Linked DNA regions of Homo sapiens: region 2 is linked to region 1. The links come from fine-mapping of genetic effects on gene expression. A gene starts in region 1. The other region holds a variant in brackets. All regions are shown on one strand. Distances are from middle to middle.

Region 1 (4,389 bases):
TTTTTGCTCATTTCCAATTCAACAAGGATTTCTTGAGCCTATGCATGCAGGATCATGTAGCACAGTAGCGTAGAGCCTGAACCCCAAGGCCAGACTTCGTTTTTGTTTTGTTTTGTTTGAGACACAGTCCACTATGTTGTCCAGGCTGGTCTCAAACTCCTGGCCTCAAGCGACCTTCCACCTCAGGATCCCAAAGTGCTGGGATTACAGGTGTGAGTCACTGTGCCCAGCCAAGGCCAGATGTCTTGAATGCCAGTCTCAGGAATGCTACTCACTAACTGGGAGACCATGAACAATTCCTTAACCTGCCTCTGCCTCAGTACCGCCATCTGTAAAATAGGGATAAGAATAGCACCTACTTTTCAGGGTTCTTATGAGACTAAATAAGTTATAGGTAAGTAGATGTATGAGTAAAGCACATAGGTTAGCTGCTATGGGCACAGACTCTGGTTCAAAGCTCGACTCTGTCACCAGCTAGCTATGTGATCAGGGGCAAGTTATTTAACCTCTTTGTGCTTCTATTTCCTCGCAAGTAAAACGGAGACAATAGCAGTACTTACAAAGCTGTTTTGTGGATTAAAGCACTGCGAACAGTGCCTGGCATGCAGAGAGTGCCAGGAAGCCATGTCCATCATTGTTAATTACCATGTGCTGATGAGCCCTGTACTGAGTGAAGAAGGGGCTCAAGGTCAGGTTGTGAGGTGAATGGGAGAGGGACTGGAGGGACAAACAGGAGATACGAGTTAACATCACTGAGCAAAATCACTGCAGTAATTGCTGTCCAGGTGCTACCTCATTTGTTTCCCCAGTACTCCTAGCAGAGGATATTATTCTCCCCATTTTTCAGTGAGGGAACTGAGCACCCGAAAGGTTGGGTGATGTGAACAAGGCCTCCCTGCTGGGAAGGGTCAGGGCAAGGGTTTGAATCCAGTTCCGTGCCACCCCTCAAAGGCCTCCACCTCTGAGGAAGAAACCTCTGATGCATCCTTCACCTAGCTCACCTCTGAGAATTTGTAGCTCAGAAAGGAACCGGTAATGTGGGCATTTTCTCTCCACTTGCCCTTGCATTTGTCAATACTCACTGTATTTTTATTTTTATTTATTTATTTTTTTTGAGACAGAGTCTCACTGTTACCTAGGTTGGAGTGCAGTGGCATGATCTTGGCTTACTGCAACCTCCGCCTCTTGGGTTCAAGTGATTCTCCTGCCTCAGTCTCCCGAGTACCTGGGATTACAGGCGCCCACAACCATGCCCGGCTAATTTCTGTATTTTTAGTAGAGGCGGGGTTTCACCGGTGGCCAGGCTAGTCTCGAACTCCTGACCTCAAGTGATCCGCCGGCCTCAGCCTCCCAAAGTGCTGGGATTGCAGGTGTGAGCCACCACGCCTGGCCTGTCAATACCATTGTGTTTCTGAGCCTATCCATCCATTCAAGGAGCGCTCACATACAGGTCACTGTGGGTTACCGCTAGGCTGAGATTGTTTTGCTTTTTTAATAGCTTGCCCTGTGGAGCGTGATGATGACTTCCTCTTCTGTCCCCTAAAAGAACCTGAAACTGTAAGTGTGAAAGTGTGGCGCAGGGGAGAACTGCCTAGGCAAGGGCAGCTGGCACGACCCTTCTCACCTCTTCCCTAACATTCCTAGCATTCATGTTACAAGCAAGGGCCACCGCGCCCCCTGCTTGAGCATGTTAGCCGGGCGGTAGGGACGGAGACAGTTCTCTCATGACGTTCGAGTAACCAGGAAACTTCATCACAGGGACAACACCACAGCACCCGAGGACTCAATGTCTAGGGGGAAAAGCTCTGGAGAAAGCGGAGGGTCGGATCATAAAATAATCATAAACTCAGCGTCCCAGACGGCATCTGGGATGGGAAGTACAATGATCATTTAAAAAAAAAAAAGTCTTTGACACTCTTCCTACACCTTTCTGAAATGGCACAATCTGTCAGACCACATCTGATGCAAGGAAAAGCAAGACAGGAGCGCTTTTCCCGGATAACAAAGCCAAGACTCCCATTCCTAAACCCTAGCTCAGGTCTCCATCTCTTAAATCCGAGTGACCTCTACAAACTCTCCCTGAGAAGGTGTCCAGAACCCTTTTGGAAGCGAGGGACAGTGTCACTGTCTTTGGGGTTGACACCTGCTCTGAGTAACTCACGGAAAACAAGTTCCAGCTGGGAAGCCCTTGGACGCGCCACACCTCCCTACCCGCAGCCCGTCCTGTGGCGCCCGGGACTCCAGAGTGCGTTTAGATGAAAGGGGACCGACACGTCAGGGCCACCGCGGGAAGCGCTGAGGGCCACTCACCGGCCAGGGACGCGAAGAGCGCGGCCGCCGCGCTGAGCTGCCGGGGCATGGTGGGCGCTGGGCGAGGTTCTGCAGCGTGCGGCGAAGTCCGGGCAGGCCCCGAATCGGTGCCAGAGAAACCTACCTGTGCCGGAGAAACGAAACCACCTGCTTATGAGAAGCAGCCGAAAAGCCCGCCCAGGGCCGCTGGGCGGGGAGGGAAACTCCGCCGGCCCCCTCCTACCCCTACGGAGCAGGGAGGGGCGGGGACTCGGCGCAGCCGCCGGGGCCCGGGCCTCTGGGACCGTTTACCGCACGCGCGTGGTCCCGGCAGCGCCGGCCTCCTCCGCTCATACCCTGGGTCTCCTCCTTTCTTTTTCTTTTCTTTTTGAGACGAAGTCTCGCTCTGTCGCCCAGGGTGGAGTGCAGTGGCGCGATCTCGGCTCACTACAACCTCTGCCTCCCGGGTTCAAGCGATTCTTCTGCCTCAGCCTCCCGAGTAGCTGGGATTACAGGCATGCACCACCACACCCGGCTAATTTTTGTATTTTTAGTAGAGACGGGGTGTCACCATATTGGCCAGGCTGGTCTCGAGCTCCTGACCTCGTGATTCGCCCGCCTCGACCTCCCAAAGTGCTGGGATTATAGACGTGAGCCACCGAGCCCGGCCAGGGTCTCCTCTTTTATTTCTTTTCTTTTTATTTCTTTTGTTTTGTTTTGTTTTGTTTTGTTTTTTGAGACAAAGTCTCGCTCTGTCGCCAGGCTGGAGTGCAGTGGCGGGATCTCGGCTCACTGCCCTGGTTCAAGCGATTCTCCTGCCGCAGCCTCCCGAGTAGCTGGGGTTACAGGCGCCCGCCACCACGCCCAGCTAATTTTTGTATTTTAGTAGAGACGGGGTTTCACCCTGTTGGCCAGGCTGGTCTCGATCTCCTGACCTTGTGATCCGCCCGCCTCGGCCTCCCAAAGTGTTGGGATTACAGGCGTGAGCCACTGCGCCCGGCCCAGGGTCTCCTCTTTTCTAACAGCTCGGGTACCTTTCTGGGAACCCAGAGACGCTTCTCAGCCGGGAGAAAGCCAGCCACTAGGCGAGCAGGAGCCTAAAAACCCCTAAGCACCCTGACTCCATGTCTTCCCAGGGAGTCTGCGGCAGCCGCGCTCCACGCCCAGGCCTCGCCAGGACCGCGGTTTGCGGGAAGCAACAGGAGCACAGCCCAGAGGCGCTAGGTCTGGCTGGGAGCTCGCGCTGCCGACTCCCCGGCGTGCGGCGTCGGGGAACCTCTAGGAGCCTTGGATTCTTCAGCTGTAAAACGGACATAATAATGCCCACTCCCAGTGTGTTTTTTTATTTTCTTTTTTCTTTTTCTTTCTTTGTTTTTGTTTGTTTGTTTTTGTTTTTGTTTTTGAGACAGGGTCTCACTCTGTCGCCCAGGCTGGAGGGCAATGGCGTGATCTCGGCTCACTGCAAACTTGGGTTCAGGCGATTCTCCTGCCTCAGCCTCCACAGTAGCTGGGATTACAGATGTGCGCCACCACGTCCGGCTAATTTTTTGTATTTTTAGTAGAGACCAGGTTTCACCGTGTTGGCCAAGCTGGTCTCAAACTCCTGACCCCAGGTGATCCGCCCGCCTCGGCCTTCCAAAGATCTGGGATTACAAGCGTGAGCCACTGTGCCTGGCCCCAGGTGGTTTTACAGACCAGAAAATCCTGGAACAAAAAACACACAATATCGTTTTTTTTTTTTTTTTGGAGTCAGGGTCTCGCTCTATCACCCAGGCTGGAGTGCAGTGGCGTGATCTCGGCTCACTGCAACTTCGACCTCCTGGCCTCAAGTGAGTCTCCCACCTTAGCCTCCTGAGTAGCTGGGACCAAAGGCGCGTGCCACCACGCCCAGCTATTTTATTTTATTTTATGTAGAGAGGAGGTCTCGCTGTGTTGCCCAGGCTGGTCTCGAGTTCCTGGCCTCAAATGATCCTCCTGCGTTAGCCAACCATTGGGATTACAGGCGTAAGCCACGGCCCACGGCTCAACAACGCTGACAGGCAACCTTTTAATGTCTTATCTCCTTCCTCTATTAATTGGATTGTCTGTCAAAACAACGAT
Region 2 (4,389 bases), 31 kb before region 1:
TGAATAGCTTCTATATCTAGTAGCTTCCCTGTAATGCTTTAATCATAAGGTTTATCTGTATTACCTGTAATGATCTCAGTCATTCTCTCTATGAAAATAATATAATTTCCTCCCTATTTATTCTGCCTCTGACTGTTTCTATACATTATGCAGTGTATTGCTTTGACACTCATCTTGTTTTCTTACTCTTTCATTTTAACATCTTATCTTTAAACTCTGATTACCTGGAATTCACATTAAGTGATTCTCAGCATCAAGCAATTGTCAGGAATTTCTTTCTGTTCCTTGAATTATGTTTTCTTTGTATTTTACTATTTTCATTTCTAACTTTCTGTTATGGACTAAATTGTATCCCCTCCCTGCCCCCAAATTTACATGGTGAAGCCCTAACTTCCAGGACCACAGAACATGTATTAGGACACAGGGTCTTTCAAGAAGTCAGTAAGTTAAAATGAGGTCATTAGGGTGGGCCTCTATCCAATATGAATGGTATCCTTACACAAAGAGGACATATGGATACAGACAGGTACAGAGGGAAGACCACGTGAAGACACAGGCCATCTACAGCCAAGGAGAGAAGTTTCAGAAAAACCAATGCTGCTGAGACCTTGACCTTGAATTTCTAGCCTCCAGAACTGTGAGAATATACATTTCTGTTATTTAAGGCATCCAGACTGTGGTATGTTACTAAGACAGTCTTAGCAAACTAATACACCCTCACTCCTTTTTTTTTTTTTTTTTTTTTTGAGACGGAGTTTCGCTCTGTCACCCAGGCTGGAGTACAGTGGTGCCATCTTGGCTCACTGCAAGCTCTGCCTCCCGGGTTGACGCCATTCTCCTGCCTCAGCCTCCCGAGTAGCTGGGACTACATGCGCCTGCCACCACGCCTGGCTAATTTTTTGTGTTTTTAGTAGAAACGGGGTTTCACTATGTTAGCTAGGATGGTCTCGATCTCCTGACCTCATGATCCGCCCGCCTCGGCCTCCCAAAGTGCTGGGATTACAGGCGTGAGCCACCGTGCCTGGCCTCACTCCTTTTCTTAATTTAATTTCAAACTATTCTTATTTTGCTGCAGTATTTTGGCACAGTGGCCATGCAGTTTGTTTTCATCTTGCTCATGCTTGAGCGTGGCAGTCGAGATACTCCATTTCCTATGATGCCGTTTGGGTGAATTATGGTCTTTCTTTCCATTGCATCTGAGATCAGTTAATGTTTCCCTTTGGGTTAGATATTTGGATTCTATTCTCTTTTTTGTAGCATGGAAACTAGCTGCAGCCTGGAGCGATCGTCTGCTTTGGGGTTTCTTCCCCAGTTCACCTCCGTCTGTCCCTCCCTTTACTCTTCCCAGTCTTCCTGGGAGCCATTTTCACTACCCTAGGTTGGAAAACGAAGAAAATAAAGCAACCCACTCTTTTTTTTTTCCTCCAGGTTTAGTAATGGAGGAGTTCACAGAATTTTTTTCCCTCTCATCACAGGCTTCTTAGGGTGAATGTGTGTGTGGTTAGGAGGGGAGGCAGGTGAGGAGCCCAGCTCCACTGCCCCCTCTGCTCTCCACCTGGAAAGTGGGCAGGACTGTGAGTAAATTACACATCCAAGCGTTTATTTACTGGCCATTCCAATGAAACCTTTGCTTTTTGTGGTTACCAGAATGCTAATTCAAATTAATTCTAAAAATAATCAGTACTGGGGTCGGGGGAATAGATAGCAGGAGTCCAAGCAGTGGCCATCATCCAAAAGAACTCACTGAAGAAGGTAGGGAGGAAAATTAAATTTAAGTGGTCATATCCCTCTATACTTGATTTTAAATTCTGCTTCTTGTTTCATCTGCTAGGGGAGAAATTTCCACATGCTAGAAGGTAAATCTTACATTAATCATTCTGCAGAAGAGTGAGTGGCTGGTGAATAAACACCTTGTCCTCTGCCCTACAGAACTTTCGAGTGCCCTTAACACTGGACACAGGGGAGCCTGGAGCAGGTGCCAGTTTGAAGGAGGAGGTGGAAGGAGATCACAGCTCTCCAAAGCCAAGCTCTTGCTGTTAAGCCCGAGTCTCTTTGGGGAACTCCCGGGTCCTCATATCAGATTGTCATCAACATCTGTTTTAAGAGGGAAACAGACATTTTCTGACACTCTGGATGTCTTCAGGGGCTCTTAGTGCTCTTTTGAAGCTGCGGTGTGCCCTCCCCACAGCCCCAATTCTAAGAAAACAAGGAGAGCAAAAATGCCTCCTGGGAGAGTCAGTACATTTCCTAAGTAGGCAGTAGTTTTAGAGTTGTTGCCAAATTTCATAAATGTCATGTTAAAAATAATGAATGGCACCTCTGGAAAATTTGGAAAAACAAGAAAACTTCCAGTCAGTAGAATCAATTAAGAACATACCTCTCCTTTTTCTCTGAATGAAAAACCCCCATCAATGTAATAGGAAACCATGAATAACATCCTAAGCCATATTTTAATAGAATTTTTCCCTCAGATATCAACCGTCCCCCATCAGGAATGTACTGCTTTTGGTGAATGTTTGC[G/A]TAAAAGGGAAGTGAGTGATCCTCCAGGCAGGTCTACCTCTTCCTGCTTGCCATTCCATATTGTCTCCCTGCTCTGTCTCCCTCCTGTCCTGCAATGGTCCAAATGGACACATTTACAAGAATAAAATAACATCAAAGAAAAGCCGACAAACCCGGAAAAAAGTAGCTAAGAAGGCAGACAACACATGAAATTGAAGCAACTGAAGGGCTAACATTTATTGAGCCCCTCCTTTTTTGCCATGATCTTTGATATGTGCTTTAAATTAAAAAAGTGAAATAGGCAGTTTCCTAATTTTTTAAACTGATAATACATTACAATAGAGTAGGATATGTTTTTTTAAAATAATAGCATATTAAGATCATCTATAATTTAAGTAAACAAAATTTGGGTAAAATCCAGGAGTTTAAAATCATTTTGTAATCAACTTTGAAATGCATTGGTTTTTTTAAAGTAATGTTTTTAAAAACTGAAAATCAGGACTCTTGAAAATGTATAAGAAAAATCAGTCAATTTGTAAACGTCTTCCCCACAATTCTCCCTCCGGGTTTTCGCTTTCTCCCTTCTCACAAGCACCCCACTCATGTCTCTGCCTATTGCCCCTAATTCCGGAAGCCAGCACTGGTATATTCAGGTATGGCAGAGGGCATCAAGCACACCTGGCATGGCCTCCCCAAAGCAACAGGAGGAAGTAGGGGAGGTGCTGTTTCCCAGCACTGCGGTAGCCCTTTGGTGGAAAGTTAGGTTTCCTAATCAGCTCAGGAGGGTGCAACAGGCAACGAGACAGGTCAATCCTTTCACTTCAGGCTGAATATGATGCTGGAATTCCCAAGACCTTAACTTTGCACATTTTGAAGAAAGTGGGGCTTTACATGCGTTCATATCCTCTACTGGGCCTCTTTCTGGCCACCAGACATGCGGTTAGCAAAATGACAAGCAGTCCTGTGATACTCAGGCCCATGGCCACAGGGATTTCTCTCCTGTTTCTGTCACTGAAGCATTCATCCGCTGTAATTGAAGTCAGAGTAACAAGTGTTACAGACTGGCCACAAATGCTGGGAAGTGGCACTGCCACATCTGCCTCAGCTTTGGAGAAAAGAAGACAGAGGGGAAGATGGAGCTGTTGGGGCTCAGACAACAGTGGGTGAAAACGAGAGGGAAAGGGTCAATACAGTGGATCTGACACGTGTAGCACTGGTAATTAGTTAGGGAGCTTATTAAATTGCAGATGCCCAGACACATGCCCAAGAAATGATAATTCAGTGGGTCTGAGCTGAGGCCAGGGGAATTCTGATGCTGCTTCCAGGCAGATCCAACTTTGAGAAAATGCTAGTTTGGCCTAGAGGGTTGTGATCAGAGTTATGTCTTGACTCTCAAACTAGAGTAATTCCCGGAGCCATATTCTCCAACTCTAGTAATAGTTTGAGACAGAGTCTCACTGTGTCACCCAGGCCAGAATGCAGTGACACAATCTCGGCTCACTGCAACCTCCGCCTCCTGATTTCAAGTGATTTTTATCCCTCAGCCTCCCGAGTAGCTGGGATTACAGGCATGTACCACCATGCCGGGCTAGTTTTTTGTATGTTTAGTAGAGATGGGGTTTTGCTATGTTGGCCAGGCTGGTCTCATAGTCCTGGCCTCAAGTGATCCACCTGCCTTGGCCTCCCAAAGTGCTGGGATTACAGGAGTCAGCCAACACGCCCAGTCCTAACTCTGTGTTTCTTACAGGGGCTGCTCAGATAGCTTGGGGCTCCTAAATCAGCATAATAAACAGCAAAAGAAAAGGACAGCAAAAACCCTAAAACTCAATAAACAAAACACAATGTTTGCAGGCTCCAGGATTTTAGGGAGGAGGAGATTTTAGGAGTCAG

What was found. PIP is the estimated chance that this variant, and not a neighbour inherited with it, causes the effect.
Region 2: its variant is the best candidate, but not a certain one, in a credible set for the expression of LAMP3 in fibroblasts (GTEx, PIP 0.73).

The regions. Positions count from the first base shown.
Region 1 is chr3:183,160,297-183,164,685 of GRCh38, forward strand. It overlaps LAMP3 (lysosomal associated membrane protein 3), which reads right to left and starts at 2,438. Exons shown (of 6, transcript NM_014398.4): 1 at 2,311-2,438. The coding sequence starts at 2,359. RefSeq lists an enhancer at 1,617-1,826 and a silencer at 2,439-2,648.
Region 2 is chr3:183,129,431-183,133,819 of GRCh38, forward strand. The region is part of intron 5 of LAMP3 (lysosomal associated membrane protein 3); the gene reads right to left. Among named protein-coding and RNA genes, the nearest start is that of LAMP3, 31 kb to the right of the region's middle. The variant G/A (reference allele first, on the strand shown) is at 2,521.